Linked DNA regions of Homo sapiens. The protein of the gene in region 1 purifies or fractionates together with the protein of each later gene. This does not show direct contact. Each region holds a gene or a part of one and is shown in the gene's direction. Other genes may lie near its edges.

Region 1 (3,824 bases):
AAATCTTTTGATACTAAAATATTTTTTATTTGTGACTGAAGATTGAAAGACGTTTTATTTTTAAAAATCTTGTTTAATACTTGGTGAGTCTTGGATGACCTTGGTGGTGTTAGTTTTGGTGGTCATTCAAGACTGAAGGTTTTGTTCTAAGTTTAGTCTTCTGAATTTTTATTTAATGATTATCATATTTGAAAAAGTTACCTCTAAAAAGATCCAAGTAGAGGAAAGTCATCATTTTGTAGTACTTACTAAATCATGATATTCCCATCCTCCAGTTATGCTATGGCTTTTCCTTAAAACGAGCTAGAAAATTTTCATCCTGTAGTCCCAGCTACTTGGGAGACTCAAGTGGGAGGATTGCCTGAGCCTTGGGAGGTTGAGGCTGGAGTGAGCCTTAGTCCCACCATTGCAATCCAACCTGGGCAACAGAGCAAGACCCTATATCAGAAAAAACAAAAAAAGTGCAATTAGTAGACAATTTAATAGAATAACCTGAAAAATATAAAGAACCATATAAAGCCCTCCAGCATTAGGCTTTCAGGCCTCATAAGCCATAATTTGATTGGATGAGGGGGCAGTGGTTCTAAATGTATGCCTGAGAATTTTGAACAATGACAGAAGGTGACAACTCTGAAAAATTCAGTTTGCTTTGCCAACTCGCTATTGGCAATACTCTTTCCATAACATGGGTTTCTTTCTTTCTTTTTTTGTTTTTTTTAAAGCAGTTGTTTTTACTTGGTTTCTCCCTGTGAAACTACAGGAAAAGTGTCAGTATTTCTGTGAATGCCTACACTTAACCTTCAGTACCCTATGGGACAGGTGACCAGCAGGCAGTACTTTTTCTTCCTGTCCCATGTAGTGTTTGGTAAGAATTTTGCCTGGTACGTACATGGCAGAAACATAACAATTTTGTGTGGGTTGTAGAGTTGTGCTTCTTTATTTCTTTATTCAGCCCATAAGTATGCTATTTGGTCTGACATTTTTACCTTTTTTTTGGCTGACTAGCAGGGAGCAAGGGCTGTTTTGTCATCTCAGCTAGCATGCTCTGCTTTCCCTTGCCTGTCCTCTAGAAGTCCAAAGTTCTGTGTTTCTGGGATTGCTTTTCCCTGGGAGTGGAGATGAGCACTGTCTTTGCCCTTCGCAGGCTTCTAGTCTCCTAGGCTGTCTAGAGAAAGCTTGTGATAGAATGGGCTGATAACAGTGCTGATTTTGGACTATGGTCTAAAAGACATTTTTGTATTCATAACCGCTAAGAGAATTCTGGAGAATTCTTCATCCCATTTTGCACATATAATATATATATTTTTATATGTTGTAAAAATATGTATTTTTAAAATTAGTTATTATTATTATTATTATTATTTCAGAGACTGTGTCTCACTATGTTGCCCAGGCTGGCATGAACTCCTGGCCTCAAGCGGTCGTCCTGTCTTGGGCTCCCAAGGTGCTGGGACTACAGGCAAGAGCCACTGTACTGGGCCCCATCACATATTTTTGACATCAGTTTTTTTCATTATAAATAAAGAGTTGAAAAGGAAGTGATTTCTGATATATTGTAAATATACACTTAAAAACAACAATTGTTTCATTATTCTTTTAAATGTATCTGATGGGCTCTAAATCTATAATAATTTGACCTATTGTCATACATTTTAAAACATGTAGATGAACAAGCTCTTATTTGAGTCAGAAATGTTTATTTTTCTTTTTTCCTCAATCATATTTCAGTTCCACTTCCCCTGCAAAATATTAATTTAATTTCATTTATTTTTATGCTTGAAAATATTTTATTGGTCGTTCTATCACACGTGACAGAAGTATACATTAAAATTTTATTTCCTGTTCTCATGAATCTAAGTATTTATTTCTTTTCGATTGCATTACTACTGTACTTATTAGTATAAAATTCATCAAAACAAATGGATACTGCCGGGCGCGGTGGCTCATGCCTGTAATCCTAGCACTTTGAGAGGCCTAGGCAGGCAGATTACCTAAGGTCAGGAGTTCAAGACCAGCCTGGCCAACATGGGGAAACCCCGTCTCTACTAAAATACAAAAATTAGCTGGGCATGGTGGCTGGTGCCTGTAATCCCAGCTACTCCGGAGGCTGAGGCAGGAGAATCACTTGAACCCAGGAAGCAGAGGTTGCAGTGAGCTGAGATTGCACCACTACACTCCAGCCTGGGCGACAAGAGCAAGACTCCGTCTCAAAACAAAAAACAAAACAAAAAAAACAACCAAATGGATATGTTATACATTTTTTTGAAGAAAACATCTTGATGAGATAGAGCCTTCCACCCCCAATTATTTGATGATTCTGTGGATAATTACTATTTAATACTAGAATAAGATTTTTCATTTGTATAGATCTAAGCTTTAAGGAACCCTGTTGACATAAATAAGTAGATGGAAATGGACAGAATATTGTTATATGAAGGTCACTTAGACTCAGTTTTTACCTTTAAAATTATATGTCAAAATACAGTGGATTTTTTGAATCAACTAGCTTGCCATTCATCTCCTCTAATTTTGTAGAAAGCAGGAAAACTGGAAACCTCCAGACTTGTAAAAGGAATTGTTATTCAGTCATTAAGTCATTCATCTTCCAGTATCAGCTCGAGTATTTTAGATCACCTTTTTGCATGGATTCAGAGTGGAGGGGTGATGGGCCTTTATTTTGTAAAGTGGGAGAAGCCTGATTGTGAAAAAGTATGCTTGCTTTCATGTGGCTCAGGAAGTTTTCATGTACCCTAGTTTGAAGACAACTGATTTAGGTAGCTTGGTGTCTTAGTCTGTTTTGTACTGCTATAGCAGAATACCTGATAATGAACAGAAATTTATTTCTTACAGTTCTGGAGGCTAAGAAGTCCAAGATTGAGTGCCTGACACCTGGCCTTTTTGCTGTGTCATGGTCATCCCGTCCTGGAAGGCAGAAGGGCAGGAGGAGAGGAGGGGGAGGGAAGTGCCTGTCCTCGTGCACAAAAGTTTCAAACAAGAGGTTCCTTTTATAAGGAACCCACCCCTGTCATAACGAATCTGCTCCCACGATAATGGCATTAATCCAGTTCATGATGGTGGTGCCTCCAAGATGCAAACACCTCCCATCAGGCCCCACTTCCCAACACTGCCACATTGGGCATCAAGTTTTCAACACGTGAACTTTGGAGGACACTTTCAAACCACAGCCCTTGTGTTCCAGCCCACTGTTGCCACTTACTTATTAAGTATCTGTATATTCATCTACAGAAGAGGGTCCTTACAAGCCCTTACATTTTGACAGTTCTGTAACTAGCCTTGAGTATCCTGTAATTGTTACCACTGGTCACACAAAGTACTTCTTGAATCTGAACCTGTGTAAGTGGTAGTCATTTGTAAGCTTTCTTTGGTGGGGTTCTGAAAGACTGACATCCCCTGCCGTTTGCTAACATTCATCTCAACTGGATACCAGTTAGATTTCCTGAAGGTCCTGGGACCCTTCAGTATGCTTACTGTCACTTTTAAGCCTTTGCAGGTGTTGCTCTTTTGCTCTTTTTGGGGCCTCCTCTTCTATGTTGCCAAAGCATCCTAAACAGACCTCAGTTACAGAATTTTTTTCCCTTGCCCTGTGTGGTCCTTGCTTGTTTAGTCTATCTTCTCTAGACTGAGCTCTCAGGATCAGGGACTTTGTTTTACCTCACTATTGCCTGAAGCTAACAAGTGTCCAAAAACGGGAAGGATGAGGAGGTTCTCAAATGTTTGTAGAATAACCAAATATTAAGTAATTTTTTTTCAAACTCTGTGTATCATAGGAATCTCAACATTTCCAATATTGAACTCCTCATCTC
Region 2 (3,824 bases), 2.2 Mb from region 1:
GACTAAGGGTTGTGAAGCTCTGTTGTAACAATCATACCATTTGGTTCCTAGAGTCCAAGGATACATTGCACACATGGATGAAATGCCCACCTAAAAGGATGTATGTCTTAAAGTTCCCTCCATGCTGCCATTTGCAAAGCCCAGTCAATATTAGTTTAGCTGGGGTAGAGAAGTGGTCCTAAAATTAAATATTATACAAGTGTATACTTAATTTGATCTGTACTTTATATGAAGAACTATATAGTGGACCTCATCAGTTTTTGTTCCAAATTTAATTTTTAAAAGGAAACTTTAAAAGGCTTTATAGCTAAGTCATTTCTGACAAATTTACTGAAAATATCAGAACAGTTCCTTGCAATACAGAGTAATGATTTTTAAAAAAATATTTACATTCTTATAATTTGGTTAAATAAATGACCCAGGTTTTCACTTTTGGGCTGAGATCAAGCATGAGAAGGAAATGTCTTAGAAAATGAAGACCTTAACAACTAACATAGATATTTTTAAATGGAATGCTCTTCTCATTAACTACAGCAAGTCTATGTAAATGTAACTGGGAGTCTATAGCAGAGCAGCAGACTTACTCCTAAAGAGCCATATAGTAAATATTTTGGCTTTGTTGGCCAGGAGACAAAATGGAGACCATTATGGTAGGTACTTATATGACCATTTAAAATATTAACATTTAAAAATGTAAAAACTATTCTTAGCCTAAGGTTCATTTCAAAAATCGGCATTTGGCGGAGATCTAGCCCAAGAGCCATAGCTTGCAAATACCTGCTCTATAGTAATCAGTGTTATAGAGAGAAATCAAACTATAGTCTGTGGTAAAATGCCTCTACTGGCAAAAATCCAGACTTTGAAACAATGAAATAATATGAATCTCCACATATTTGGGTTCCCTTTAACTTTGCGTAAGGCAAGAACATGGAACAGTAAATGGGAAATAAATTGAAAAAAGACAGAAAGAAATGTTTGTTCTCTAATCATGGTGTTTAAAAAAATAAAATTAGTCCTAATGTCAAAAATAAGTCTGACTTAGGAAAAAAGCAAAACAAAGCAAAAAAATAGTATGTGTATCTTTTAGTGATTTTATATACTGTATTTATTTCATTTTGTTTTATTTTTTTGAGACAGGGTCTTGCCCTGTTGCCCAGGCTGGAGTGCAGTGGTATGATCATAGCTCACTGCAACCTCATACTCCTGGGCTCAAGCGATCTTCCTCCCTCAGTCTCCCAAGTAGCTGGGATTACAGGTGCATGTTGCTGCACTCTGCTAATTTGTTGTTGTTGTTGTTGTTGTTTTTTTTTTTTTTTTTTTTTAGAAGAGACAGTCTCACTATGTTGACCAGGCTGGTCTTGAACTCCTGGCCTCAAGCCTCAGCCTCCCAAAGTGCTGGGGGACTATAGGCGTGAGCCACCGCGCCTGGCCATATACTGGGTTAAGAAACGTAAATATATGCCCTTGGAATGAAAAGAGTGTGGTTGAGATCTCTGTTTAGATAATCTGCATATAATTTTTTTTTTTTTTTTTTTTTTTTTTGGAGACGGAGTCTCGCTCCCTCACCCAGGCTGGAGTGCAGTGGGGCAATCTTGGCTCACTGCAAGCTCTGCCTCCCAGGTTCACGCCATTCTCCTGCCTCAGCCTCCCAAGTAGCTGGGACTACAGGCGCCTGCCACCACGCCCAGCTAATTTTTTGTATTTTTAGTAGATACGGGGTTTCACCGTGTTAGCCAGGATGATCTCGATCTCCTGACCTCGTGATCCGCCTGCCTCAGCCTCCCAAAGTGCTGGGATTACCGGCATGAGCCACCGCACCCAGGCTGTATAATTTTTTTTTTTTTTTACAATGCCAAATCTGTTGTAAGTGATTTGACGGCCTGATTGGTAGCTCTTACTGTTTCTAAACTCAAGAGAAAACCTAAATTACTCTCTGAAAAAAAAAAACAAGCATCTAAGAAAGCTTCCTGAATAAGTCCTCACATAGTCTTGAATAGTTTTTAATTATAGCCTCAGTTAGGATGATCTAACAATTTTTTCCCTAAAGAGTGATTTATCCTATATTGCCCTTTAATAACTTTTAAAGTGTTATTTTCATAGAAATTTGGTTCCATATACCTACTCTGGACCATGGAGCATAGCCCTCACTTTTAAAGCCAAAATTCCTTGTACTGTAAATTTGGCAGCATTTATTCAGTCATCATTGTAACCATGATTTCCTTATTTCTCATTATTGCAGTTTACTCTTTATTAAAGAAAATTGCAGAGAGAAAAGATGTACTCAAAGAGAAAGAACTGGACTCCTAGGGAGTTAAAAGCCCTGTTATTCTTTGCTCATTTGTTATATAGTCTTGTGGTTAGGCCAAGTGAATTAGCTTAGGGCTTAATTATTTATTTTCCAAAGAGCTCCTCAGCTTTGAGGAGCATGTACGTGTTCCAGAGGATGGTATTCATTATAAGCCAGTGCAGTTTCCCATACTGTGACAGGATTGGGTTCTGATTTATTTAAAAGATAAAAGGGATTAAGTGCAATGTCTTCCTTCTATTCTAGCTTCAATGAGTGTTTCTGTTTCCTTAATTTCTTCATATACATTTAGTTGACTGACATATTCCTTGCTTAATGCCCGAAGTCACAAAGGGAAACAAAAGTTTTTTTTTAAATTGAGATGATTGATGATAAAAAGGGTGTCCTTAATGCTTTAAATATTTGGTTCTTTGAAGTCTTTGTAAGTGATTTCAGTTATTGTGTTCCCTTCACTAGATTTAATATCAGAGGAACAACAATAGGTGATAGAATAATGAGGTAATTCAGTATGTTCCTTCATAATTTTTTTTTTATGATGGATTTGCCAGGTCTTCTTTTGCCACAGCTAACCACCTTTCCTATTAACAGTTAATACTCCCTTTGGACTTACTGAATTCTAAGTGCTAAGCATTGTAAAGCAGGTCGCTTTCCACAAACTATATTTAGCTGCATGCACTGCATGGGGATAGAATGAAAAGAAATTTCCTGTGTGCAGACTGATGTTCACTTCAAATATGTCATATGGCAAAGTAACTATAATCTGAAATGATGTACTTTAAGTATCAGTTACTCTTTTTGGATATTTTGTTGAAGAATGCAATTTATGTTTTTTAAATTTGATTGGGATAACAATTACCAACTTTTTGTTATTCGTATATGCTCCTTTTCCTTGAGCTCAATAACTAAAAATGTACTTGAATCTAAATCTGTGTATAGGTTTCTGATTTTTGCAAGAAAGTTGTTTCCTTATAAATAGTTTAGAAATAGTGTCACATATCAAGATGATATATAAGCCTCAAGCACTTCTCTATTTGGGACATATTTTTGAGTAGATCTTTAAAGTGAACCTCAATGACATCAGTCACCTACTGAAAACCTGTTTTGCTGACAAAATCAACCTTGTACTTAACTCTAGAGGCATATATCTGTTATTTACCATCAGTTTCTAAAACAGTTGAACATGAAACATATAGCAACAATCAGAAATGTAAAGTTTGTAGAGTTCCTAATGAAAAATACAGAAGTCATGAAATAAGCCAAAAAATATAATAGATGTATGGAAATTTCTGGTTATGGTTCATTGTCAGGAGGATTCTCATCTACAAGTCTCAAATTTGTTTTTGCTTCTCAAACTTGTTTTGTTTTGTGCTGTTGTTTCTAGCCTGTTTTAACATTAAGGTATATTTGAAATAACTTTTTCAAATTATTACTAGTTATCACTTTCTTTTTTTTTTTTTTTCCCCAAGATGTAGCCTTGCTCTGTTGCCCAGGCTGTAGTGCAGTGGCGCAGTCCCAGCCC

The links.
Region 2: the proteins of UCK2 (region 1) and DCAF6 purify together in Homo sapiens (affinity purification with mass spectrometry; one large-scale study listed by BioGRID and IntAct). This does not show direct contact.

Annotation. Positions count from the first base shown.
Region 1 is NC_000001.11:165,834,020-165,837,843, forward strand, and holds part of UCK2 (uridine-cytidine kinase 2), read left to right. Parts: intron 1-3,824. UniProt on the Homo sapiens protein: Phosphorylates uridine and cytidine to uridine monophosphate and cytidine monophosphate. Does not phosphorylate deoxyribonucleosides or purine ribonucleosides. Can use ATP or GTP as a phosphate donor.
Region 2 is NC_000001.11:168,048,131-168,051,954, forward strand, and holds part of DCAF6 (DDB1- and CUL4-associated factor 6), read left to right. Parts: intron 1-2,761; coding exon 2,762-2,803; intron 2,804-3,824. UniProt on the Homo sapiens protein: Ligand-dependent coactivator of nuclear receptors. Enhance transcriptional activity of the nuclear receptors NR3C1 and AR. May function as a substrate receptor for CUL4-DDB1 E3 ubiquitin-protein ligase complex.